Homo sapiens: one gene and its partners. The protein of the gene in region 3 interacts with the protein of the main gene of each other region in a biochemical or structural test. Each region holds a gene or a part of one and is shown on either strand. Other genes may lie near its edges. The genes, in order: IRF1, PELI1, BIRC3 and CASP3.

Evidence for each region.
Region 1: of the proteins of BIRC3 (region 3) and IRF1, one has a biochemical effect on the other in vitro, tested with the Homo sapiens proteins (one study listed by BioGRID).
Region 2: the proteins of BIRC3 (region 3) and PELI1 form a complex in vitro, tested with the Homo sapiens proteins (one study listed by BioGRID).
Region 4: the proteins of BIRC3 (region 3) and CASP3 form a complex in vitro, tested with the Homo sapiens proteins (one study listed by BioGRID).

Annotation. Positions count from the first base shown.
Region 1 is NC_000005.10:132,481,099-132,487,795, reverse strand, and holds the end of IRF1 (interferon regulatory factor 1), read left to right. Parts: intron 1-665; coding exon 666-842; intron 843-951; coding exon 952-1,001; intron 1,002-1,109; coding exon 1,110-1,239; intron 1,240-1,422; coding exon 1,423-1,545; intron 1,546-2,079; coding exon 2,080-2,129; intron 2,130-3,298; coding exon 3,299-3,434; intron 3,435-3,720; coding exon 3,721-3,845; 3' UTR 3,846-6,187; downstream 6,188-6,697. UniProt on the Homo sapiens protein: Transcriptional regulator which displays a remarkable functional diversity in the regulation of cellular responses.
Region 2 is NC_000002.12:64,106,417-64,113,448, forward strand, and holds part of PELI1 (E3 ubiquitin-protein ligase pellino homolog 1), read right to left. Parts: intron 6,257-7,032; exon of another isoform or gene 6,147-6,256; intron 1,964-6,146; 5' UTR 1,895-1,963; coding exon 1,824-1,894; intron 1-1,823. UniProt on the Homo sapiens protein: E3 ubiquitin ligase catalyzing the covalent attachment of ubiquitin moieties onto substrate proteins. Involved in the TLR and IL-1 signaling pathways via interaction with the complex containing IRAK kinases and TRAF6.
Region 3 is NC_000011.10:102,334,475-102,339,926, reverse strand, and holds the end of BIRC3 (baculoviral IAP repeat-containing protein 3), read right to left. Parts: intron 3,962-5,452; coding exon 3,707-3,961; intron 3,168-3,706; coding exon 3,126-3,167; intron 3,019-3,125; coding exon 2,825-3,018; 3' UTR 524-2,824; downstream 1-523. UniProt on the Homo sapiens protein: Multi-functional protein which regulates not only caspases and apoptosis, but also modulates inflammatory signaling and immunity, mitogenic kinase signaling and cell proliferation, as well as cell invasion and metastasis.
Region 4 is NC_000004.12:184,639,428-184,646,459, forward strand, and holds part of CASP3 (caspase-3 isoform a preproprotein), read right to left. Parts: intron 5,296-7,032; exon of another isoform or gene 5,116-5,295; coding exon of another isoform or gene 5,104-5,115; intron 1-5,103. UniProt on the Homo sapiens protein: Thiol protease that acts as a major effector caspase involved in the execution phase of apoptosis. Following cleavage and activation by initiator caspases (CASP8, CASP9 and/or CASP10), mediates execution of apoptosis by catalyzing cleavage of many proteins.

The DNA of each region.
Region 1 (6,697 bases), on a different chromosome or scaffold from region 3:
GCTGGTGGCAGACTTGTGTTTCTGGAGAAGAGAGTCGATCATCTCAGCAAATTCTCAAAGGGAAAAGCCAAGATCTTAGAAAGTGTGTGGCTTCAGGGGGTTTGTGGCTAGATGAAAGTTCTCCCTGGCAAAAGCATCTGTGAAAAGCAGCTGTAAGCCAGGGCACTGAAAGAGACCCAGGTCTGCCTTTTTCTTCGTGTTGACCAAGGCCCTTGGTCCAAGCCTCATGTGGTTGGTGGCCTCCTTTATCCTTGAGAGATGGAGCTCTAGGCCCATCTCAGAACAGTCAGCCCACCCATTTAGTAACTGTTCTCTGCTGCCCAGTCTGTGCCCACTCTACCCTCTGGCTGCTGATAGCCCAAGGAGGAAGACTGGGCATAGTCTGAGACACAGATAGTACACTTTGGGGATATGGGGACTCTAGTGCTTCTGGCTGGGCCCTTCACTGAGGCCCGCTAGATGTGTTTAAGCCAAGCCTGGGCATTTGAGAAGGCCCAGGGCCTAGGACCTGCAGAGTGTCACCGGGAGTACCTGCTGGTTTGACCACTGTGGCTCTCTGGTAGCATAAGAGGTCAGGGGTACCTTGCCTTCCTCCTTCAGGCCAGGGGCAGCTGAGGATCCCTACCCATGGCCCTGACGATCCTCTTTTTTCTCCTGCCCTCTAGGCCGATACAAAGCAGGGGAAAAGGAGCCAGATCCCAAGACGTGGAAGGCCAACTTTCGCTGTGCCATGAACTCCCTGCCAGATATCGAGGAGGTGAAAGACCAGAGCAGGAACAAGGGCAGCTCAGCTGTGCGAGTGTACCGGATGCTTCCACCTCTCACCAAGAACCAGAGAAAAGGTATCCAAGGACTCTGGGTCCTTGGGAAGCCCTCAGGGAGGGAGGGTAGAAGGAGGTCAGCTGGGGCTGGAGAGCCTGCACCAAGGCTGACAGCCCGTCTGCCCCACAGAAAGAAAGTCGAAGTCCAGCCGAGATGCTAAGAGCAAGGCCAAGAGGAAGGTGAGTGTGGTCCTAAGCAGCCAGGCCTTTGGTCACCTGTGGGCCAGGGTGAGCAGTGGAAGAAATGCTAAGGTGGGCCTGGGCCTAAGCTGCTTTCTCCCTCGACAGTCATGTGGGGATTCCAGCCCTGATACCTTCTCTGATGGACTCAGCAGCTCCACTCTGCCTGATGACCACAGCAGCTACACAGTTCCAGGCTACATGCAGGACTTGGAGGTGGAGCAGGCCCTGACTCCAGGTGAGCTGGTCCAGGTCTGGCAGGAGACCCCACAGGTCAGTGGGATGACTCTTTCTCTTGGAGGCATGGTGCTGGCACATGGTGGCCCATTAGTGCAGGCTGCAGGGTTGGTCGGAGGGCGCTCGATGTCTTGCAAACTAAGAAAGCACACAACCTTGACCTGTGGCTTCTGCTGTTCCCCAGCACTGTCGCCATGTGCTGTCAGCAGCACTCTCCCCGACTGGCACATCCCAGTGGAAGTTGTGCCGGACAGCACCAGTGATCTGTACAACTTCCAGGTGTCACCCATGCCCTCCACCTCTGAAGGTTGGTGCTCCTGGGGCCTGGCCTGCCTGCTTGACTGTCTGGGTCCTGTGAAGGGCTTCCTGAGAGAGAAAAGATGATCAGAACTCCACCTGGCACTGAATTGATTGAGTTGGGCATTGCCCAGTCTTAGCCACCATAGGGGGAGGCAAGCGACGGGGACACTAGGAAGGCAGTTCAGAGTGGGCTGCAGTACAGTGGGGGCTGGTGAGAGGAGGGAAGGGGGCCAGGGGCTGCATTTTGGGGTGCTGGTTCTCCTTCCTCCTCTGTAGCCCAGCATCTGAGGGTGAGGAAGGAAGTAGGGTAGGGGTGGGAAGCGGCGTGGCTTCAGGGTTTGAGAGGCTGAGTCACCAGGCCAGGGTCCTGTTCTGGAATCTCTATGGCAGATAGGTCCACCGGGAGGGTGTGTGTGTGTGTGTGTGTGTCAGAGAGACAGAGAGACAGAGAAAGGGCAGGGGGATCTGGTGGGCTGGAACTGGAACTGCAGGGTGAGTGTGGCTGACTGCCAGCCAACCTCTCTGCTTTCCCCATCCACAGCTACAACAGATGAGGATGAGGAAGGGAAATTACCTGAGGACATCATGAAGGTAAAGCCCCTTCCTACCTGGGCACTCTTGAAGTGACCGTTTCTCAGTGAGGAGAGAGAACCAGTGAAGCTTCCAAATCAGAGGATGGGTAGCTGCTGTTGTCACCTGGCTGCTTGCATTGTCCCACAAGTGCCACATTCACGTGGCTTGACTGGTGGGAAAGCCACCATGGGAAGGGAAGGCAGGTGGGAGGCCTGGCCTCTGACAGGCCGTCCTGAAGCAAGCCTTGGGGCATCAGACAGCTCTGTGAGTCAGGCACTATCAGCGATGGGTCCCTGGCCTGCATCCTCTGCCCCAACATGCCCCAGCCCTGCTAGTTCGGGAAATGCACATCAGGCTTCAATAATCAGCCTTTAGGATCCGTTAATATGATGATGGCTTTATAGAAAAAGTTAGCAAATTATCCTCCAGGTTTTTTTTTCTGCTTCAGTTTTGAAAGTGAATATAGTTTTTGCAGCCGGGGGCAGTGGCTCATGCCTGTAATCCCAGCACTTTGGAAGGCGAAGGTGGGTGGATCACCTGAGGTCAGGAGTTTGAGACCAGCCTGACTAACATGGTGAAACCCATCTCTACCAAAAATATAAAAATTAGCTGGGCCTGGTGGCGCATGCCTGTAATCCCAGCTACTCTGAAGGCTGAGGCAGGAGAATCGCTTGAACCTGAGAGGCGGAGGTTGCAGTGAGCTGAGATTGTGTCATTGCACTCCAGCCTGGGCAACAAGAGCAAAACTCCATTTCAAAAAAAAGTTTTTGCAGTAGTTGTACGCCAGCTGTTCCATTAGCCCAAAAAATTGAGACATGGATGTCGTTCCTTATCTCTAGCTTTTCTAGTCATCTTTTCTTGATTTATTATGCTAACCTTTGTTTTAAGCCACATTCCCTCTTACTATGTCCTTACACAGTTGAGAGGGAAGTCGTGGAGATGCTATACCAGAGAGTGGGTGTGAGAGGGGTGGGAAAATGAATTGAGGACCAGTGCCAACATGCATTTCTGCCTCCTCCCTCCCGGGCCCTTGTCCTGACTGCAGTGCACTTCTGCATCCTATCTGAGATTGTGAAAATGGCCAAGGGTGTGATACTGGCTGAGAGGAGCTGGCTCATTGAGGGCAGGGCCACAGGGTGAGTCTGCACTGGAAGGGAGTTGATAGCCTCTTGCTCTTCTGTCCCCAGCTCTTGGAGCAGTCGGAGTGGCAGCCAACAAACGTGGATGGGAAGGGGTACCTACTCAATGAACCTGGAGTCCAGCCCACCTCTGTCTATGGAGACTTTAGCTGTAAGGAGGAGCCAGAAATTGACAGCCCAGGGGGTAAGAAGGCCCTGGATCCTTATGGCTTCTTAGATGAGGGAGAACCACGTAGGGATGGAGAAAGCTTGGGGGCAGGGCCAGGGAGCAGGGCGGTAAAGCATCTGGGGTACTGACACATTGTGAATTAGCTACGGCTGCCATGCCTTAAGGTTTGCCTGAAGCTGAGTGGATGTTTACTGCTGTGCTGGGAAGAGCAGAGGCCATGTCTATGGCCTTCAGGGGTAGGGGGAAGCACACCTGATGCCACCGTCCCCTACCCTCATACAACCTTCTTCACATCTTCTAGGGGATATTGGGCTGAGTCTACAGCGTGTCTTCACAGATCTGAAGAACATGGATGCCACCTGGCTGGACAGCCTGCTGACCCCAGTCCGGTTGCCCTCCATCCAGGCCATTCCCTGTGCACCGTAGCAGGGCCCCTGGGCCCCTCTTATTCCTCTAGGCAAGCAGGACCTGGCATCATGGTGGATATGGTGCAGAGAAGCTGGACTTCTGTGGGCCCCTCAACAGCCAAGTGTGACCCCACTGCCAAGTGGGGATGGGGCCTCCCTCCTTGGGTCATTGACCTCTCAGGGCCTGGCAGGCCAGTGTCTGGGTTTTTCTTGTGGTGTAAAGCTGGCCCTGCCTCCTGGGAAGATGAGGTTCTGAGACCAGTGTATCAGGTCAGGGACTTGGACAGGAGTCAGTGTCTGGCTTTTTCCTCTGAGCCCAGCTGCCTGGAGAGGGTCTCGCTGTCACTGGCTGGCTCCTAGGGGAACAGACCAGTGACCCCAGAAAAGCATAACACCAATCCCAGGGCTGGCTCTGCACTAAGAGAAAATTGCACTAAATGAATCTCGTTCCCAAAGAACTACCCCCTTTTCAGCTGAGCCCTGGGGACTGTTCCAAAGCCAGTGAAATGTGAAGGAAAGTGGGGTCCTTCGGGGCGATGCTCCCTCAGCCTCAGAGGAGCTCTACCCTGCTCCCTGCTTTGGCTGAGGGGCTTGGGAAAAAAACTTGGCACTTTTTCGTGTGGATCTTGCCACATTTCTGATCAGAGGTGTACACTAACATTTCCCCCGAGCTCTTGGCCTTTGCATTTATTTATACAGTGCCTTGCTCGGCGCCCACCACCCCCTCAAGCCCCAGCAGCCCTCAACAGGCCCAGGGAGGGAAGTGTGAGCGCCTTGGTATGACTTAAAATTGGAAATGTCATCTAACCATTAAGTCATGTGTGAACACATAAGGACGTGTGTAAATATGTACATTTGTCTTTTTATAAAAAGTAAATTGTTTATAAGGGGTGTGGCCTTTTTAGAGAGAAATTTAACTTGTAGATGATTTTACTTTTTATGGAAACACTGATGGACTTATTATTGGCATCCCGCCTGAACTTGACTTTGGGGTGAACAGGGACATGCATCTATTATAAAATCCTTTCGGCCAGGCGCGGTGGCTCACACCTGTAATCCCAGCACTTTGGGAGGCCGAGATGGGTGGATCACCTGAGGTCAGGAGTTCGAGACCAGCCTGGTGAAACTCCATTTCTACTAAAAATGCAAAAATTAGCTGGGCGTGGTTGCGGGTGCTTGTAATCCCAGCTACTCAGGAGGCTGAGGCAAGAGAATCGCTTGAACCTGGGAGGTGGAGGTTGCAGTGAGCCGAGAACATGCCATTGCACTCCAGCCCGGGCACCAAAAAAAAAAAAAAAAAAAAAAACCTTTCATTTGGCCGGGCATGGTGGCTTATGCCTGTAATCCTGGCACTTTGGGAGGCCAAGGTGGGCAGATCACCTGAGGTCAGGAGTTTGAGACCAGCCTGGCCAACATGGTGAAACCTCATCTCTACTAAAAATACAAAAATTAGGCCGGGCACGGTGGCTCACGCCTGTAATCCCAGCACTTTGGGAGGCAGAGGCGGGCGGATCACGAGGTCAGGAGATCAAGACCATCCTGGCTAACACGGTGAAACCCCGTCTCTACTAAAAATATAAAAAATTAGCCGGGCCTAGTGGCGGGTGCCTGTAGTCCCAGCTACTCGGGAGGCTGAGGCAGGAGAATGGCATGAACCCCGGAGGCAGAGCTTGCAGTGAGCCGAGATTGCACCACTGCACTACAGCCTGGGCGACAGAGCGAGACTCCGTCTCAAAAAAAAAAAAAAAAATTAGCCGGGCCTGGTGGCGGGCGCCTGTAATCCCAGCTACTGTGGAGGCTGAAGCACAAGAATCACTTGAACCCGGGAGATGGAGGTTGCAGTGAGCTGAGACTGTGCCACTGCACTCCAGCCTGGGTGACAAGAGTGAGACTTTGTCTCAAAAAAAAAAAAATCCTTTTGTTTATGTTCACATAGACAATGGCAGAAGGAGGGGACATTCCTGTCATAGGAACATGCTTATATAAACATAGTCACCTGTCCTTGACTATCACCAGGGCTGTCAGTTGATTCTGGGCTCCTGGGGCCCAAGGAGTGTTAAGTTTTGAGGCATGTGCCATAGGTGATGTGTCCTGCTAACACACAGATGCTGCTCCAAAAAGTCAGTTGATATGACACAGTCACAGACAGAACAGTCAGCAGCCCAAGAAAGGTCCTCACGGCTGCTGTGCTGGGTAGCACTTGCCATCCAGTTTCTAGAGTGATGAAATGCTCTGTCTGTACCGTTCAATACAGTAGGCACTGGCACTAGCCACATGTGCCAGCTAAGCACTTGAAATGTGGCCAGTGCAATAAGGAATTGAACTTTTAATTGCATTTAATAAACTGTATGTAAATAGTCACATGTGGTCAGTGGTTACCATATTGAACAGTGCAGGTAGATACTGGACTGGGGGCAGATCTGAGGGAGAGGGGTTTGAGTAGTGGGAGGACACTGGGGATAGGGGCTTGGGGCTATTTACCTGCCATTTTGAGTAGTTTGCTATTTTAGCAGCCAACAATAACTATTGGTGCTGAATACCAGCCCTGCAGTGTAGCATGAGACAGGTCCATGCACACATGCATTAGGAAAACACCTTCATGAAGCAGGATTCTGCCTGGGCTGATGCACACAACCTCTATGGAGGGTAAACAGTGTTTCTGAAGACCGTAGTTTGGGAACCCCTGACATATGACAATGCCCCCTTAGATAAGCTCAAGTTACAGGAATGTCTGAGGGTGGAAGGTGTGGATATGTGCTTTTCCTGTCTCCCTCTTCAGTGTCTGGCCATGGGGCATAAACACTACCCAGCAGTAGGTAGGCTGGCCAAGAGAAGCCAGCTTGCATCACCAGCATCATCTAGGGAATGGAA
Region 2 (7,032 bases), on a different chromosome or scaffold from region 3:
AACCCTAAGCTAAATATTAAACTATTCTTCAAATGACTCTCAAATTTCCTGCTAGAAGAATTTAATCTGGAAAAGTTTTTGGTAGTTAAGAGCTGTTTGTCATTGATACCATTAAAATCTATGTGATTTGAAGTTCTAATACTGTAGTTACTATGCTAAATTTATGATCTTTTAAAGCTTTGTTTCTGAGAAAAGAATTTTAAGTCTCAAAGGGCCTTAGATGATCTTATCTGTCATTTTTACAGACAAGGAAACTAAGGCCCAGGATGGTTCAGTGACTTGCCCAAGGTCACACAGCTAGCAGTGCTGAACAAGCACCGGATTCTAGGATTCCTAACATCCAGTCAAGCTCAGTAACTCCATATGATTTCCCCAGTTTCTCTTACTATCTCAACTGAAACAACGCATTCTCACTTTAACAACCTGACTCTCAAACATACCGCAATATCTAGAGTTGCTTTTTAGGCAAAAGGAGGGAAACAGTAGGGGGAAAATAAAATTAGCAATTTTCTTTTTTCTCATTTTTTTCGAGACGGAGTCTTGCTCTGTTGCCCAGGTTGGAGTGCAGTGGCGCTGATCTCAGCTCACTGCAACCTCCTCCTCCTGGGTTCAAGTGATTCTCCTGCCCCAGCCTCCCAAGTAGCTGGGATTACAGACATGCACTATCATGCCCAGCTAATTTTTGTATTTTTAGTGAAGATGGGGTTTCACCATGTTGGCCAGGCTGGTCTCGAACTCCTGAGCTCAGGTGATCTGCCCACCTAGGCCTCCCACCTGTAAGCTGGGATTACAGGTATAAGCTACTGCACCTGGCCTAAAATGAGCAATTTTCTAGTTTCTGAGATCTCTAGTTAGGAAAGGCTAATACTGTGTCTCCATTTTGATAGTTAATGGCAAGTTTAAGTGGAATAAATTGAAATAATTTGGAATAACAGAATCATCTATTCCTCAATCTTCAGATTCTATTTCTGTGAGTTACATGGATGAAATTACGTTAGGAGCTAAGAAGTAGCTAGGTCCTGGGCTTCAGAGGCATTATGCTGTCACCATACACATATACAACTCCTTTAACCCAAATGTACAGCACAAAGCAATAACTACTGTAGAGAGGCAAAAGAATAAATGAAGACTAACCTACATGAAATGACTTAAAGCAGGGAAGGGAAAGGGAATTTTTGGTAAAGTCAGCTGAGGCAAAACATGGGATAGGGAAGACAAATGGAATGACTGTGACAGTGGATAAATAACATTTTTCATTTCATTTCATTTTTTTTTTTTTGAGACAGAGTCTTACTCTGTTGCCCAGGCTGGAGTGCAGTGGCGCGATCTCAGCTCACTGCAACCTCTGCCTCCAGGGTTCAAGCAATTTTCCTGCCTCAATCTCCCAAGTAACTGGGATTACAGGCATGCCTCATCACGCCCGGCTAATTTTTGTGTTTTTAGTAGAGATGGGGTTTCACCATGTTGGCCAGGCTGGTCTCGAATTCCTGGCCTCAGGTAATCTGCCTGTCTTGGCCTCCCAAAGTGCTGGGATTACAGGCGTGAGCCACCATGCCCGGACTTTCCATTTCATCTTTGAGAAACTCTGCCCTTTCTGTGGGTAAGGGTGAGACAAAGCTTATGTCATATTTGAGTGCTTTTAAAAGATGGCATGAATATGAGAAGTAAAAGAGTTTCTTGATTTGGTAACATTACCTGTAGCTTTAAATTCTTTTTGGAAGCAGGTAAGATATAAATTCCAAAAAAAAAAGTACTTTTAGCCTAGATGCCAAAGTTAGCATATATTATTAAACTGTGTGTGTCATCAAATGGAGAAACCTTACCCTAAGACAATGAGTTCACCATATTTTACTGGTGCTTTAGATGGATGATTTTCTTGATCAGGAGAAAACATGAGCTTGGCTGTCTTTCTCAAATCTTTGTTCACTGGTCAGGAGCCTTGGGACACCTTTTGCATTATTTCCTAGAGGGGAAAAGTTTTCATTAATAATGTGAACAATTCGTTTCAGTTTAAATAAAGATGTTATTTTTCAGCAGTCCTCTTGAACACAATATTATGCAAACCATCACAAGGTATATACATTTTATGGGACATTTTGCCCAATAATGATTATATATTTTACAAAACTGTTTAAAGGAATCAAAAATGCAAATTTGAAGACTTCCACTTACAGAAGCATAGAGCAGACATACTTTTCCCTTTTATTTCTGCTAAGTATAACTAAAGACCCTGGACATTATATACAAAACATGAGAAGACTGTGAAAAGTGGAGAGAAGGCAGACTAAGTAAGGGACCTCAGGACCCATGGAATGACACGGTGGTGTAAATTCTCTGGGTTTTCTTTTTGCCTAATATATCCCAGACTTGGAGCTAAAGAAGGCAGCAACCTGGAAATGCCAACTGGCACAGACAAAAAGAGCCACAACAAAAGCTTGCTCTCTCTAGCCAAAGAAACAAGAAAGGGACAGCCTGGCAAGACAGAAAACTTTTGACAGTAACTGCTCCACTCCAGCCAAACCCAGAAAACAGTTTTGCCCCACCACCACCCACACCAACGAAAGCTAAGTGAGGAGCCTTGACTTCCAGCTCATAAACCATAGTGAGGAGCTCCAATGCCCTATTAGGGCAATGTAAAAGTAGGCCAACTAGGGAGCCAGGACTTTCACCCTGATGGCCGGGCATGCCCCAGCACCTACCTCAGTAGGTGTCAGCTAGACTTCCACCCCCACCCAGCAATAACAAGAAGGATCCTCTTCCTGAGGCATCAGTAGAGGCTGAGTAGGGACCCTTGACTTCTATGTCCACCTGGCAGTAATGAGGCACCCCCTATGACCTTGCCAAAGCAGTGTCAATAAAAGCCAGTGGAAACAGAAGGTTTAGATAATATCCAGAGCCTAGGAACATAATATGAAAATATCTAGTTTTAACAGAAAATCATTCATCCTAGCAAGAACAAGATTTAAAACAATGCAAAAGATAGGCTGGGTGCAGTGGTTCACGCCTGTAATCCCAGCACTTTGGGAGGTCGAGGCAGGCGGATCACTTGAGGTTGGGAGTTTGAGACCAGCCTGACCAACATGGATAAACCTGGTCTCTACTAAAAATACAAAATTAGCCGGGCGTGGTGGCACATGCCTGTAATCCCAGCTACTAAGGAGGTTGAGGCAGGAGAACCACTTGAACCCGGGAGGAGGAGGTTGCAGTGAGCCGAGATCAGTGCCACTGCACTCCAACCTGGGCAACAGAGCAAGACTCCATCTCAAAACAAAAACAGAAACAAAAACAAAAACAATGCAAAAGATAATCAATAGGTGCCAAAACTTAGATGACAGAATTACCTGACAAAGATTTAAAAGCAGCTATGATAAAACTGAACAGTGGAAATTACTCGATCTGAATAGAGAGAAAATAGGAAAAACAAAATGAAACAAAAAACAGAGCCTTATAGACCCGTGCGTGAGACTATAGCAAAATCTAACACGTGTGTCACTGGACACACATGTCAAAAAGACAGAAGAAAGAGTAAAGCTGAAAAAATAAAGAGGCTGGGAGCAGTGGCTCACGCCTGTAATTCCAGCACTTTGGGAAGCGGAGGCGGGAAGATCACTTGATGTCAGGAGTTCGAGACCAGCCTGGGCAACATGGTGAAACCCCGTCTCTACTAAAAATACAAAAATTAGCCAGGCATGGTGGTGTGCCTTGTAGTCCTAGCTACTTGGGAGGCTAAAGTGGGAGTAATCGCTTGAACCCGGGAGGCAGAGCTTGCAGTGAGCCAAAATTGCGCCACTGCACTCCAGCCTGGGCGACAGAGTGAGACTCCGTCTCAAGAAAAAAAAAAAAAAAAAAAAAGAAAAAATATCCTGGAAGCAGAGAGAGAGAGAGAACACTGCATTTATAACGACAATTAGACTGACAGTGGAGTTCTCATCAGAAACCACAGAACCCAGAAGATAGTGGCATAGTATTTTTCAGGTGCTGACAAAAATGGAAGGGAAGTCAAGACATTCTCAGACGAGGAAAAATTGAGAGAATTTGTTACCAGCAGACCCACTATAAATAAAGAATGGCTAGAGGAAATTAACTAAACAGAAAATAAATAAATAAAAGAACCTTAAAATATGAGATGTAAAAACACGGTAGCAAAAATATGAGTAAATACAATCGACTTTCCTTCTCTTGAATCTTCTGAATTTTGTCTGATGGTGAAAGTGAAAACTATAATACAGTTAGATGTAGTTCTAAATGTGTGTAAAGGAAATAGTTCAGAAAGGCCAAGGTGGGAAGATCACTTGAGGTCAGGAGTTCAAGACCAGCCTGGCCAACATGGTGAAACCCCATCTCCACTAAGAATACAAAAATTAGCAGGGCGTGGTGGCACGTGCCTGTAGTCCTAGCTACTCGGGAGGCTGAGGCAGGAGGATCACTTGAACCTGGAGGCAGAGGTTGCAGTGAACCCAGATCGCACCACTGCACTCCAGCCTGGGTGACAGAGCAAGACTCCATTTCAAAATATATATATATATATGTATTTGACACAAGTATAACAAAAAATTAACACTTCTGATCAGCCGGAAAATCACACAATAAATAATCCCCAAAATATTATCATGTCTTTTTCATCCTCAGTTTAATGGGATCAAGTATTTCCTGCATTTATTTCTCTCCCTAGTTCCTGATAGACCTGTTACAAAGGTTTCACAGCAAAACTCCTACTAGCTAGCCCATAAAAGTCTCCTCATTTTATACCTCCACCAACAGATTTCATAGGAATCTCATGAATGAAAAAGGTCTACTTGTCTTTTTCTACAGTACAATGAAATACAGCCTGTGTAGTGGCACTTTTGGTGAGAAGGCAACAGGGAATGTATGTAGCCCAATGAATAAGAACACGTCAAAGGAAAAGTCAATGAATAAAACAAATCATTCTGACCCCTACTAATCCCTTGGAAGTGACATACACATTTAGACCAGTCATTCACACTAACACACAACTACTATCATCAATAAATTCAAAAAATTATTTTAAAAAATGCTTCAGAAATATTTTAAGAAAAACATTTCCATCATTCAAATACACTAAAAACACCTCTCGTCACCCTAGATATATTTGCTTTTGCTGAAGAGATTTTAATTCATTACGGTATTTAAAAGGTTACAGAAACCAATATATTGCTATTTCACCATAACTGTGATACATCTGAGTTGTGAGGCAATCAGATTCCTTATTTAGAAAAATAAACTTATGCTAAGCTAACTAAAACCTTCAAGGTAAAAACTGAAGTTTCAAGAACAATTAAATCAACCAAAGAATAATTTTGGTTCCATATAATAAGATCTTCTGATATACATGAAATCATACTTTAGTATATAAACATGTATTCATGCCCTCTCATTTCCCCTCTAAGAAGCATTTCATTTAAAAAAGTTATACAGAAGCTTAACTAGAGGCATTAGCTGTGCTTTTTCTGTTTAGACAATTAAGGAACTGACATCAAACATGAAAACAATGCTTTGACACATTTCTGACGAAGAACAGCAATAATTAAAAATTTAATAACAATTAAATTTAAATTAATTTTAAATTAAATTTTAATAACGTTGCTTTGTTTTGAATTCCTATTTAGAGTTACTATTTAAAGGATATAATGGTTTTCTATTTATAGTAGCAAAAAATTTCCTTTAAAATAAGCTTATTTAAAGGAGTCAATTTAAATTGTATTAAATAGAATTAGTAAGTGCACAGATATGGCAAACATCTGAAAGTGTAAATGCCCGTATTTGGCTGACATTAGTATATCACATGGCTAGCAAGTATTAGCCTGTGTTCTAGTTCTAGCTGTCTTTGAACAAAGCAATCTGTTTCCTCATCTCTGAAAATGAAGGGACTAAAGTGGAATAAAGGGAATTTGGGAGCTGGAAAAAATATAAGCGACCATTTGGTCCTGACATAAGAATTTACAAGTAACGTGCATAACACTATAGATTTAGTTCTATTGCGTCTATAGCAAAAGAACAATTTTTTTGCTTAGACAAGAAACTAAAAAACAAGAGTACGGCTGGCATATACCCTCCATATAATTTCTAGAGCCCTTGGTCAAATTAGCCAAGAAAAACAATATATTTCCAATCAGACATATTCTTACTCTGCTTAGATCTCTTAGAAGGCCTTATCTGGGGATATTTTATCAGTGACATCAAAGTTTCAATCACAGGAACACATTCAATCTTGGCTTCTACTTCTGTATTTGATAATCTAAACCCAAAATAAAACACTTTTGTAGTACCAGTTATTTATATACATAAATGACCCAAGATAGTTTTCAAAATTTAAAAATGGCATATAATCAATCAATATACAACTGGCCTTATTAAACTGCAAATAAAATGCTGTGACAGCTATTCTTCCTGGAACTTTTTTTTTTATGTGTTCTCTGAAGAAAGATTCATGATCTTCCCAAAGGTTTATACTCTTTAACAAAGACCAGTACCTAGACAATGCTTTCCTACTCACTGTCTTTATATATTCTCTCTATATTTTAAAATCTGAGTAAAAGAATTCTTCAAAATGAATTCCTAGGCTGGGCATGGTGGCTCATGCCCGTAATCCCAGCACTTTGGGAGGCCAAGGTGAGAGGATCACTTGAGGCCAGGAGTTTGAGACCAGCCTGCGCAACATAGTAAGACTCCCGTCTCTACAAAAGATTTAAAAAAAAAAAAGTAAAAACAGAAAACATTAGCCAAATGTCATGGCATGCACCTATAGCCCCAGCTACTCAGAAAGCTGAGGTGGGAGGATCACTTGTGCCCAGGAGTTTGAGGCTACAGTGAGCTGTGATCCTCCAGCCTGGGTGACGGAGAGAAACTCTGTCTCAAAAAAAAAGAAAAAAAAAAAAAAATTCCTGAAGTCATGTACTTGAGAACTTTAAATGAGTATGTACATAAAAAACATCCGAATGTCTCGATTACTGGCTTCATTTGTTGGTCTTCAATTAAGTTAGTTTGACCTCATGTATTCAGCCCTATCCCAAT
Region 3 (5,452 bases):
CTGGAATTTTCTTTCTTTTTAATTATTTATTAAGACATGGTCTTACTATGTTGCCCAGACTGGTCTTGAGCTCCTAGACTCAAACGATCCACCTGCCTTGGCCTCCTAAAGTTCTGGGATTACAGGTGTGAACCACTGCATCTGGTCTTGAATTTTCTTAGTAACATACATAGTGTCTACTATGATGTGCAAGACAACAAAAGGAGGTGACATCTTCTCCAATAGGAGCTGAATATGGTTCAATCACATTGCCTGTGACCACAAAGGAACTTAATGGCTAATGGTATCAAGCGATATAAGGAAATTAAGAGAAAGGTTGGAATGGAAGCTATAATGAGCATGGCTGAAGTATGAAATTAAGCCTGCTGCAAAGTCCTGTATGATCACACTTAATATATTGAGGTTTAAACCCAATGACTGAAGACCACGTTGGCTGGTAGGTGGGGTTGGAGGCAATCAAATGGATTAATGCATGTCAAGCACCTGAAAACATCTGACATTTGGTCAGCAAATAGATCTACCATTATTATCTATGGTGATTTATTTTTTCCAAAACAAAATGTCAAAATAACACTTAGGGAAATAACATATTTGAATAAATGGGTTGGTTATAATAGCTATTTATTACCATAATGAGAAATGAACAAAAGTTTTACAGTGAGATGACAAAGTTCAAATATTATCTGTAGTATACAAGAACTAGATAAAAAAAAAAACACATGGTGCAAAAAGGGTGCCTACTATTTAAATACCCTATACCTGAGTTACAAATCACCTAAGCACAATTACAAATAATTCAGCCTAGCACCCATGCAGGACACTGGCTAGTACATGGGTAGCCAGCAGAGCCTCTTAGCAGAGGCAAAATCAATTGCATTTCAAGGAAATAAGTCTCCCAGCATCAGAATGCAGAGATGGATTCTTTCCTCCCCTCACTTGGTCCCTAATTGTTCTCTTTACAACACTAGCAGATGTTGGGGCTCAGAAAACCCAAAGTGAAGGCCTCAGAAGCAAAGTTTTTCTCTGATGTTATCCTGCCCTCCTGTCTCAGCCTCATTCTCCCTGAAGGCAAGCCACAGAAACTTGAATTCCTCTTCCCCAAGGTAGGTCATAGAAACTGGAACCATCTTTCCACAATGCCAGACTTACATCTTAAAGATAGTACTCTAATCTTTCCTCACCTAACTATGTAAGAGCTGGCCATAAATAAATTCTCTGACCTACCTTGCTTGATAGCAGGTTATAATATCCCCATCCCATACAGGCCCTGCCCTATATCCAGGAGGAAGGAATGCTGCACAGAGACCAAGAATAATCTGAACAGACAGGCCTTGCTGGGTCCCCAACCTGTGTCTATTCCCATTAGATCATATCCTTTTTTTCCAATCACTATTCTTCAGGGCTGTCCATTCATTATCAAACCTAAGCATAAAAATGCACAGTTTCCCCTGTAATTTTGGATCTTCATTACGAAGGCTCCCCGGTGATGTAAATCTGTGATTAAATAAATTTGTTAAGTTTTTCTCTTGTTAACCTGTCTTTTGTTATAGGATTGTCAGCTGTGACCCTTATGAAGGGGTCTTTCCCTTCTGCCCTTACAGAGCCATCTGCCCCTATACAGACATCTAGAACTGGTTTAGATGACTAGCCTTTGCCTGCCTTCCCCTGAGTATTCCCTATTACAGTCTTACTTCTGCTCTTGAAGACCTAATACCTCTATAAGAAGCAAAGGACAGAGTTATGACTCGGACGTGTTGAGTACCAATAACATAATGCAGAGGGGGACATTTTGTTGCACTGACAATATGAAACAGATTTATTTACCAGAACAACCTGTTGGTCCCAAGCATTGCTAACCAGTGTACTTTCTAAGTTTCAGAATTAATACCAAAGAGATAAGAATAAAACTCAGACCTTCTTCCAATAGGTGGGGCTGGCATGAGACTTCTTGAATGAATCAATAGAGAAGTGAATAAACAAACTTACTAAAGGGACTGTTTGATTCTTGTCTCAGGCATTCCATAATAGATTTTATGATGTGTTGACCCCGTGTTCTACAAGTGTCAATGAAGAAGCATCTTATGGGAAGGAGTATAAACTGTAGTTCAATATTTGAGAGGCTTTAAGAAGGTATGGAAAGAGTCTGGGAGTGACTAAACTATCCAATGTCATTGAAATAAAGCAATGAAGAATAAGAGTAATTTTTGTTGCTTTATTAAATTTTTTCTCACAGAATTCTTTATAAAAACACCATGTCCCTAAAATGTCATTCAACATATATGCACACCTTCGATGTATAGGACACTGATCAAAAAAGACAGAGAAATGTGTCCCTGGTGTTTTGTTTTTGTTCTGTTTGTTTTTAAAGGCAGGGTCTCAGTATGCTGCCCAGGATGGATTCAAACTCCTGGGCTCAAGTAATTCTCTTGCCTCAGCCTGGGACTACAGGCACATACCACCACACCTGGCTTCATGTTCCCGGTATTAGTACAATGCCAAAATATTTAAAATTCTTAAAGGTTAACTCAAATATCTTAAGTTTTACTTCACTTACAATTTCAATAATGCTGAAATTTTGATTGAATATTGTGTTTGTAGTGCTACCTCTTTTTCGTTCATAAGAACAAAAGCCTATCATTCTCTTAGTTTCTAAAAAATATATGTTCATATGGTTTAGATACATATATAAATATGTTACACAAAACAATGTTTTTTGAGTTGTAAATAAATAAAAATTTTAAGGAAACCAAATTAGGATAAAAGTTAAAGTTATAATACATTTAATAAATTAATTCTAAAGTTTAGACGATGTTTTGGTTCTTCTTCATGAAAGAAATGTACGAACTGTACCCTTGATTGTACTCCTACAAATAGGACACTTTCTTAAAGAAGGAGCACAATCTTTGCATACTACTAGATGACCACAAGGAATAAACACTATGGACACTTCTTTGTCCATACACACTTTACATGTTCTTTCTTCTTGTAGTCTCCGCAATTGTTCTTCCACTGGTAGATCTAGAAAGAGGAAAGAATTTTTAATAAAAGGCAGTTTGCTTCTTCAGTGAAAAACTAAGAAAATAAAGACAATGTTCTCTATTGATTTAAAATATTAGTACTATTACCTGAAACATCTTCTGTGGGAATATATTTTATGTCCTGTTGCACTAAGGGAGAAAAAGAAAAAGCATTACTATGACAAATAAGGTTAATATTTAGCTATGGAATCTATTTTAAAAATGAACACTTTAGACTATAGCCAAATACTCATTTCAAGGCAACAGAAGTCTTTAATCTTTTTATGTAACTAATATCTATAAATTAGATTGATTTTTTTTTGAGACAGAGTCTGTCACCCAAGCTGGAGTGCAGTGGCACAATCACAGCTCATGGGAGCCTCTATCTCTCAGGCTTAAGCCATCCTCCCACCTCATCCTCTTGAGTAGCTGGGATTACCAGGCATACACCATCACAAATAATTTGTTTTAAAAATTTTTTGTAGTGATGGGGTCTCGCCACGTTGTCCAGTCTGGTCTCAAACTCCTGGGCTCAAGCAATCCACCTGCCTCAGCCTCCCAAGGTGTTAGGATTACAGGCATGAGTCACCACATTCAGCCTGAATTATTTTCAGTAGTCATAAATTATTAATAAGAGCGTATTTTCAATTGACTTAGAAAATTTTTAAAAATAATTTTCTATCACTCACCAAATAAATGCTCATATAACACAGCTTCAGCTTCTTGCAGAGAGTTTCTGAATACAGTGGCTGCAATATTTCCTTTTACTAAAATCGTATCAATCAGTTCTCTTGCTTGTAAAGACGTCTGTGTCTTCTGTTTAATAACATCATGTTCTTGTTCATTAATAATTCCGGCAGTTAGTAGACTATCCAGGATTGGAATTACACAAGTCAAATGTTGAAAAAGTGCCATTCTATTCTTCCGGATTAATAATAAATCATCTTTATAAAAAAGAAAACAAGCATAAACATGTTCAAACTCTGCTCACAAACTTCCTTCCAGTCCTATATATATAGCAGGATAAAAACTATCTTTAATTCGTAATCAGTAAGGCATTGATGTTGATTGCTAGGTTTAGGGGTGTCTCATCTCCTTTGCTTAATAATAATGTTATTATAATTATAATCCAGGGTGCAGTGGCACATGCCTGTAGCACCAGCTACTTGGGAGGCTGAGGTAGGAGGATCACTTGAGCCCTGGAGTCAGAGACCAGACTGGGCAACATAGCAATACCCTGTCTTAAAAAAATATAATAATAATAATAATAATGCTACTTATAGTAAGGACTAACATTTAGTGAGCACTGTGTTAAGAACTTTACATGTATTGATTCATTTCATCTTCACAACAGCTCTTTGAGGTAGGTCCTAATAGCCTCATTTAACAAATGAGAAAATGAAGCTGCAGTGAGGCAATTAAGTTGCCGAAGGACACCACAACTAGCAAAAATCAAACTGAGGTAGTCTGGTGTCATGTACTGTGCTTTCAATCATTTGGCAATACTGCTAAGCCTTTAACCAAATGGAACTTAGAACCCATTAAAATTGACGTTTCAATTCAATCTAGTCAAATTGGGGAAAGACAAAATCAAGAGAATTAAAACAATTTTTTCTTAAAGTGTCATTCTTCCATAAAATTTCTTTTATTATTTATTTATTCATTTTTAAAACAGAGTCTTGCTCTGTCGCCCAGGCTGGAGTGCAGTGGTGCGATCTCAGCTCACTGCAACCTCTGCCTCCCAGGTTAAAGCTATTTTTGTGCCTGAGCCTCCTGAGTAGTTGGGATTACAGGCATGTGCCACTACATCCAGCTAATTTTTTGTAGTTTTAGTAGAGATGAGGTTTCACCATGTTGGCCAGCCTGGTCTCGAACTCCTGGCCTCGAGTGATCCGCCCACTCCGGCCTCCAAAAGTGCTGGGATTACAAGTGTGAGCCATTATGTCCGGCCCATAAAATTTCTTTAAAATTCCATTTTAAGTTGAAATTTTAATTATTTCCAGAAATTAGACATATTGCCATTACCTAAATATTTTATAGTAAGCAGGGAAAGGCAGTAACAGCATTTTGAATAATAAACCCTATTTGTCAACGACTACCTTCTCGTCCTACAAGATATCATCTAATTCTCCTTCAAGACCTAGATTTTGTATCCATTGGTAAAACATTTTATATTTTAAAACTGCAGTTTTATTATCTCTTTGGAATATAACTTATGAATCTAAGTTTATTAATTTTCATATAGCTTACCATAATCCATAAAGCTGTTTCTAAAAAATAACTAATGACAGAGGCTGAGCTATCTGAAGAATTGTTTTGGGAGAGAGGATTGTTAGATTTTAGATACACTGACTTTGTCAAGTGATAGGACTCATAAAAAGAACCATTTAAGAAAGAATAAAAAATGGAAAAAAGAAAACAGCAAAAATCAAAAA
Region 4 (7,032 bases), on a different chromosome or scaffold from region 3:
TATATACCAGGTACTTTGCAAGGCACTCAGTTTTAATCTTTTCAAAATTCTAAACGTCAGAAAACCCAACTTCTGGTGGTTAAGTGACTTTGTCGACAGTCACAATCTAAGTGACAGGGCCCTCTTCCCACTCTGCTATGCTGCCTCTGAAGAAGCCAGCTCCTTACTACTTTTCTGGAGTTCTACCAGGCATTTTCTGGCTTTTCGAAGCAAAGGTACTTCCCATGGCAATCCACCTCCCTAAATAGAGGAAAACAAGAACAAAGGCAAAACAAAAAACAAAAACAAAAAATACTGAGTGACCTTCTCCACACTCTAGAAACCCTGACAATGTCAAAAATTCCAGTCAAAATACAACTTTAACCTCACTCCTATGATAAAATCAGAAATACCAAAATAATACACAAGCCTATAACAGAACTTGCTCACCCTCAAAAGTCCTTCTAGAAAGTCCTAGGTAACTTCCCCCACTTTTAAAAATTTTAATCTTTAAAACTGTGGTGAAATAGACATAAAATTTACCACTCTTAAGCGTACAGCTCAGTGGCATTGAGTACAGTTACACTGTTGGAATCCATCCCAGGACTTTTTTATCTTCCCAAACTGAAACCTTTACCAAGGTCCCCAATTTCAAGGTCTCTTGGAAAACATCATTTCTTCCCTTCTATTAAGACAAAGCTAAGCTCCTTCCTCCCCTCTCTCCCAGTTTTGTGTGCACCCCTGGTGAGGAAAGGTGCAGCAATAATATAGAAGACAGCCAGTGCCACCATCTCAATTTAACCACAGGAGAGGGTGATGTTTGACCTTCTCCAAGAGCCAGTCTATGCTCTGCATTTCTACGAAGACTTTGCTTTTCTACCATCTTACTTCCTGTAGGCTTTCTGGAAAATCAAGGGAAGATGTGAGTATAATTGGGATAAATCATCTTTTAGTTTGTCAGTAAACAAATACTTTGTGCCAGGTATCATCCTGGGAAATAGGACAGAGTGGAAGACAAGACAAAGTTCCTATCTTCCATTAGATCTTACTTTAGATAGAAGAATAATTATACAGTAGTATACCTGTGGGGCAGGGGCAGGGGGTACCTCCCAAGTCCCCCAGTAGATGCTTGAAACCAAATACAGTACTGAGCCTATATGCAGCATATTTTTTCCTATACGTACATACCTATGAAAAAGTTTAGTTTATAACTTGGGCGCAGAAAGGGATTAACAACAATAACTAATACGGGTACCTGAACATAAACACTGCCATACCATGACAGTTGATCTGATAATCGAGACAGCTACTAAGTGACCTGCCATTAGTCACTCAGTACATATTACATATTAGTATGTCTTCACATATTAACATATTTATTAACAGTGGCTGTCTGGGTGATGGCATTACTGACACCTTATTTACTCCTTAACATTCCTCTATATCTTCTAATTTTTCTATAACATCTGCATTTTTTAAAAGTGAGAAAACAGTAACAAATATTATTCTATAAAATAATATCAACAAAGGTCAGGATTGTTCTAGCCAATTTCAACTCTTGGCCCTGTTTCAAGAGTGACAAAAATAGGGGTATTCTCCTATCAAAGTAGCCACCCTTCCTTGCCTCTATCATGCTCAGTACCATGTTCCCCTCTATCTGCCCTTTTTTCTTTCATATGTACAATAAACATGTATTAGGTACCAGGAAATCTCGAACTTCCTTGAACCATGAATATCATAGAGACCAACTTGCCCCATGCACATCAATTCAAAGCGGACAGACCACATACAAAATCATTAGCCACCTGTGGTTGAGAAACAAATTGTGGTTAACTTGATTAACTGAGAGAACAGTACAGGGTAGCTAACAAGTCTGGAAACGTAGGTGAACACATAATAGTTTACTGATATTGCATTATAATCCATGAGAAAATATCTTTGTTTCAAGACTTTATGGCCAATCTATAGAAAATCTAAAGTGAAAATCCAGTGGGCCTCATCAAAGATACACAGACTGCAAATAATGGGAAATGCTAATTAAAGCAACAATGAGGTATCATTACATACCTAGCAGAATGGCCAAAACCAGAACACCATCAACACCAAATGCTGGTGAGGATGTGGAGCAACAGGGATTCTCAATCACTGCTCGTGGAAATGCAAAATGGTACAGCCAACTCGAAAGACAGTTTGGCAGTTTCCTACAAAACTAAACATACTCTTACCATATGATCCAGCCATATGGTAAATACGCACTCTTTGGTATTTACCCAAAGGAGTTGAAAACTTATGTTCACACAAAAGCCTGCACACAGATGTTTATAGCAGTTTTATTCATAACTGTCAAAACTAGAAGCAACTAAGATGTCCTTCAGTCGGTGAATGAATAAATAAACCGTGGTATATCCAGAGAACAGAATATTACTGAGCACTAAAAAGAAATGAGCTAGCAAGCCATGAACACTTTAAATGCATTATTACTAAGTGAAAGAAGCCAGTTTGAAAAGGCCATATATACCGCATGATTCCAACTATCTGACAATCTGGAAAAGGCAAAACTATGGAGACAGTAAAAAGATCAGTGGTTGCCAGTGGCTAGGAGGGAGGGAGACAGCACAGAGAATTTTTTTTTTTTTTTTTTTTTGTTTTGAGATGGAATTTCGCTCCTTGCTCAGGCTGGAGTGCAGTGGCGTGGTCTCGGCTCACTGCAACCTCCGCCTTTAGGTTTCAAGCGATTCTCCTGCCTCAGCCTCCTGAGTAGCTGGGATTACAGGCGCATGCCACCATGCCAGGCTAATTTTTGTATTTTTAGTAGAGACGGGGTTTCACCATGTTGGCCAGGCTGGTCTCGAACTCCTAACCTCGTGATCTGCCCGCCTTGGCCTCCCAAAGTGCTGGGATTACAGGCGTGAGCCACCGTGCCCGGCCCGCACGGAGACTTTTTAAGGCAGTGAAACTACTCAGTGTGACAATATAATGGTGGATACAAGTCCTTGTAAATTTGTCCAAAACCATAGGATAAACAGCACCAAGAGTGAACTTGATTGTGAACGATGGCGTTTGGGTGATGATGACGTGTCAGTGTAGGTTCCTTTGTAAGAATGTACTACTCTGGTGCAGGATGTTGATAATGGGGGAGACTACGCACGTGTTGGGGGGCAGGTGGGATACAGGATGTCTCTGTACGTTCTTCTCAATTTTGGTTTGAACCTAAAACTGCTCTAAAAAATGAAGTCTAATTTAAAAACTGGGAAATAAGACTTAATAACTTCGGAAGCTGAACCTGGAGCTCCTGGCAGTATCCTTTCTAGCCCCCAGTCTGCCTCAAATTGGCTCTCTGAATGCATGTGCCAAATGCAGGGTTCACAGTCTGTGCTCAGGAACCCCTAAATGCTGATCAGCTTCCACAGACAACCAAGGACCTAAAGATCTCTTTTGAACACTTCTGCAAACAGTCTAGTAACTCTTACACTGAAATACTGACTTTTAATAAACTTGTGTCTTTTGCCAGCAATAAAATTGTGGGATAAAATTATTCTCTCCTTGTGACTGGTAATGGAAACTTTAAATAGTGACCAGCTTTTCAGAGTACTGTAATATACAAATACTATACAAATACTATAGTGGACTTCATTAACTTCATTATTAGTATCTGAACAACATACATTGCCTCAGTTATCAGTTTATTTTGATATACTTCTAAAAATTTATATGATGGTAGATGAAATCCTTACAGCATCAGACATGCGCACATTTGCTCTCTACTTGTCATCATCCGCTTTTTCCACATGAAAGCACCAAATCCACACTCCTGGGAGCAGAGCTTTGGTTCCCGCAAAACTCACTGAAGTGCTGCTTAGCATGACATCACCTCCATTAGCTAGTGCCCAGCAGGGTACAAATTATTCTGAGGATGGTGATCTCATCTTAGAAGGATAAAAAAATCACATCCTAAGGGAAATAGTCACTGCCTTAAATGAAAACAGAAATTTTGCCTGTAATCCCAGCACTTTGGGAGGCCGAGGCGGGCGGATCACAAGTTCGGGAGATCAAGACCATCCTGGCTAACACGGTGAAACCCCGTCTCTACTAAAAATATAAAAAATTAGCCAGGCGTGGTGGTGGGTGCCTGTAGTCCCAGCTACTCAGGAGGCTGAGGCAGGAGAATGGCGTGAACCCGGGAGGTGGAGCTTGCCGTGAGCCGAGATCGCGCCACTGCACTCCAGCCTGGGCGACAGAGTGAGACTCCGTCTCAAAAAAAAAAAAAAAAAAAAAAGAAAACAGAAATTTTGGTTTTTAGAACATTCTTATTTGACAAAATATAAATAGGAAAAATAATTGTGATTTAAAAGATTTATCCTGGCATAGCAATGGACTTAACATGAATTGTTTCTTACTGGGCTGATGTGTGTGTAATTCTGTTCAATTCAGGATGCTGCTGCTAAGAAAGGAAATTTCTGAACACATATGTTTATGGCAAAGTTCTCAGTAGACCAACTGATATTACTTAGAAACCTGGAACTCAGGTCTCAGAATCACTTGTCTAGTTCCTGGATCCCTTAACACTTGCCACCAACGCTGTAACAGTCAGGTCTTCAAACACAAAAAAATATTGTCAGTATAAATTTACTTCACTCTAAAATAGATACTTAGACATTTCAAGCTGTGTTTTCCTACACAAGTAAAAAACTAGAATGTTCTCCCTATTTACATGGTGGTTAGCCAACTACTCATTACAATACTGAAGTAAAGCAGACTACAACATCTATAGCATTAAGGCAGAGAAATAAAAATTAATTTCTAAAGTGAAATTTCTATATTAAGCTATAAAGTATTAACAATTTGAAACAACCTGTTATTAAAGAGTGAATGTGTGAAAGTGTGCCTGTGGTGGGGAATTCAAAAGGAGATGTTAAATTAGGATTGCCAGTCTCTAAAACTGAAAGAAAAAATACATTATTTTACAATAGGATTTAAAATATTTGATAAAGATTTCTCAGGGACAAATACTATAGTGGACTTCATTAACTTCATTATTAGTATCTGAACAACATATATTTTCTCAGTTATCAGTTTATTTTGATATACTTTAAAAATTTATATGATGGTAAAGGAAATCCTTACAGCATCAGACATGCGCACATTTGCTCTCTACTTGTCATCATCCGCTTTTTCCACATGAAAGCACCAAATCCACACTCCTGGGAGCAGAGCTTTGGTTCCCGCAAAACTCACTGAAGTGCTGCTTAGCATGACATCACCTCCATTAGCTAGTGCCCAGCGGGGTACAAATTATTCTGAGGATGGTGATCTCATCTTAGAAAGATAAAAAATCATATCCTAAAGGAAACAGTCACTGCCTTAAATGAAAACATTTATGTGCCAGTCTCTAAAACTGGCAATCCTAATTTAAATTTTAAATCTCTAAAATTCTTAATCAGCTCATTAGGCTGTTGCTGGTTCCTGTCCTACAGGGAAACTCTGAGGTAAGAAATAAAATCTGGTCTCTGCCCTAAGGGTTTTTAAATCTCAAAGTGAGACCTAAAAAACAACTGTTAGTTTCTGAATCATGTCCATGAATGTAAATGCTTTTAAGAAACATTTACTAGTAAAGATTTACCAAAACAGTAGCCAAAGGATGTGGCGTGAGAGCTGTGTGCAAAGCGCTGCGTGATGACTGTCCCTCTTAATGCTGGCTCATACAGGCTAGGTACTGAACTCAAAGTACAAGCGTATTTTCGTGAGTCCTCCCAATGACACTCTGAGGCATAAGGATCCCCACTGCAGAGTTCAGGTGACTGAGGCTAAGAGAAGTTAATGAACTTTAAAGTCGCACAGCCAAGATTCAAACTAGGATCTTCCCAACTCAAGAGGGCAGACTCCCACTATTCTGTAGACAGCTTAGTACTATATAGGAATGATAACACTTAACTTCAGGGAAGGAAACAAAAATCCATAATCTCAGAAGCTTTAAATAAGACAAAGAAAATAAATAACATGATAGAAAGTTACTGCAGAGATAACAAAATAACATAATGCACTGAATTCTAATGAATGAAAAAATGGCAAAAATGACTATGGCATTTCTGATGCGACTAGGTAGTTTACTTTTGTGTTTTCTTTCCTTTTTTAAAAAAATTTAACAAACTTCGCATGTGGCATTCAATTTACTTCTAAAGTGAAATAGGCCAGACACAGTGGCTCGCGCCTGTAATCCCAGCACTTTGGGAGGCCAAGGTGGGAGGAATGGTTGAGATCATGTGTTCAAGACCAGTCTGGGCAACACAGAGAGACCCCATCTCTATAACAAAGTAAAAACAAGTAGCCTGGCATGGTGGCACACACCTGTAGTCCCAGCTACTCAGGAGGCTGAGGCAAGAGGATTACTTGAGCATAGGAATTGGAGGCTGCAGTGAGCTATGATCGCACCACTGCACTTGAGCTTGGGTGACACAGCAAGGCTGTTTCTAAAAATAATAATAATAAAAGTAAAATAACTGGTTTCATGTTCAGCGTTAGGTATATGTCATTAAAACATATTCCCTGTATCTCTGTGTTCCTCCAAAGGAAAAGTGAAGCCTGTCCAGCAGGACTTCTGGGGAGATTACACTTCTGTCAAACAACTTGAAAAATATCAGGATTATATTTATTACCTGTCAGAGAGGACAAAGTCTCAAAAGCAGTCACGTTTCCAGATTTAGCAAATGAAACAGAAAGAACATCTGTTTCACAATAGTTTGGACAAGAAAAGACTTCAGTTGTGATGTACCAGAGGTTTTATCAAAATCTTTTCCCATCTGGTCTCTGAATTCATTTGAGTACGTATAAGAATTATCAAACTGGCGATTGTAACTGGGCCTGGTGAAGTCAATCTTTTAATATTTGTTATGTAATTAAGGTAAAAATATGAGAACAGGAATGTAAAATCAAATACAGAATACATTGAAATAAGTTCCATTGTACTATACAAACAAACCATCCTTTCCTTTCCTCTGGCAAGGGCCACGTGACCAGGAAGACAGTACAGAGCACTCTCCACTATTCAAAGCCTCT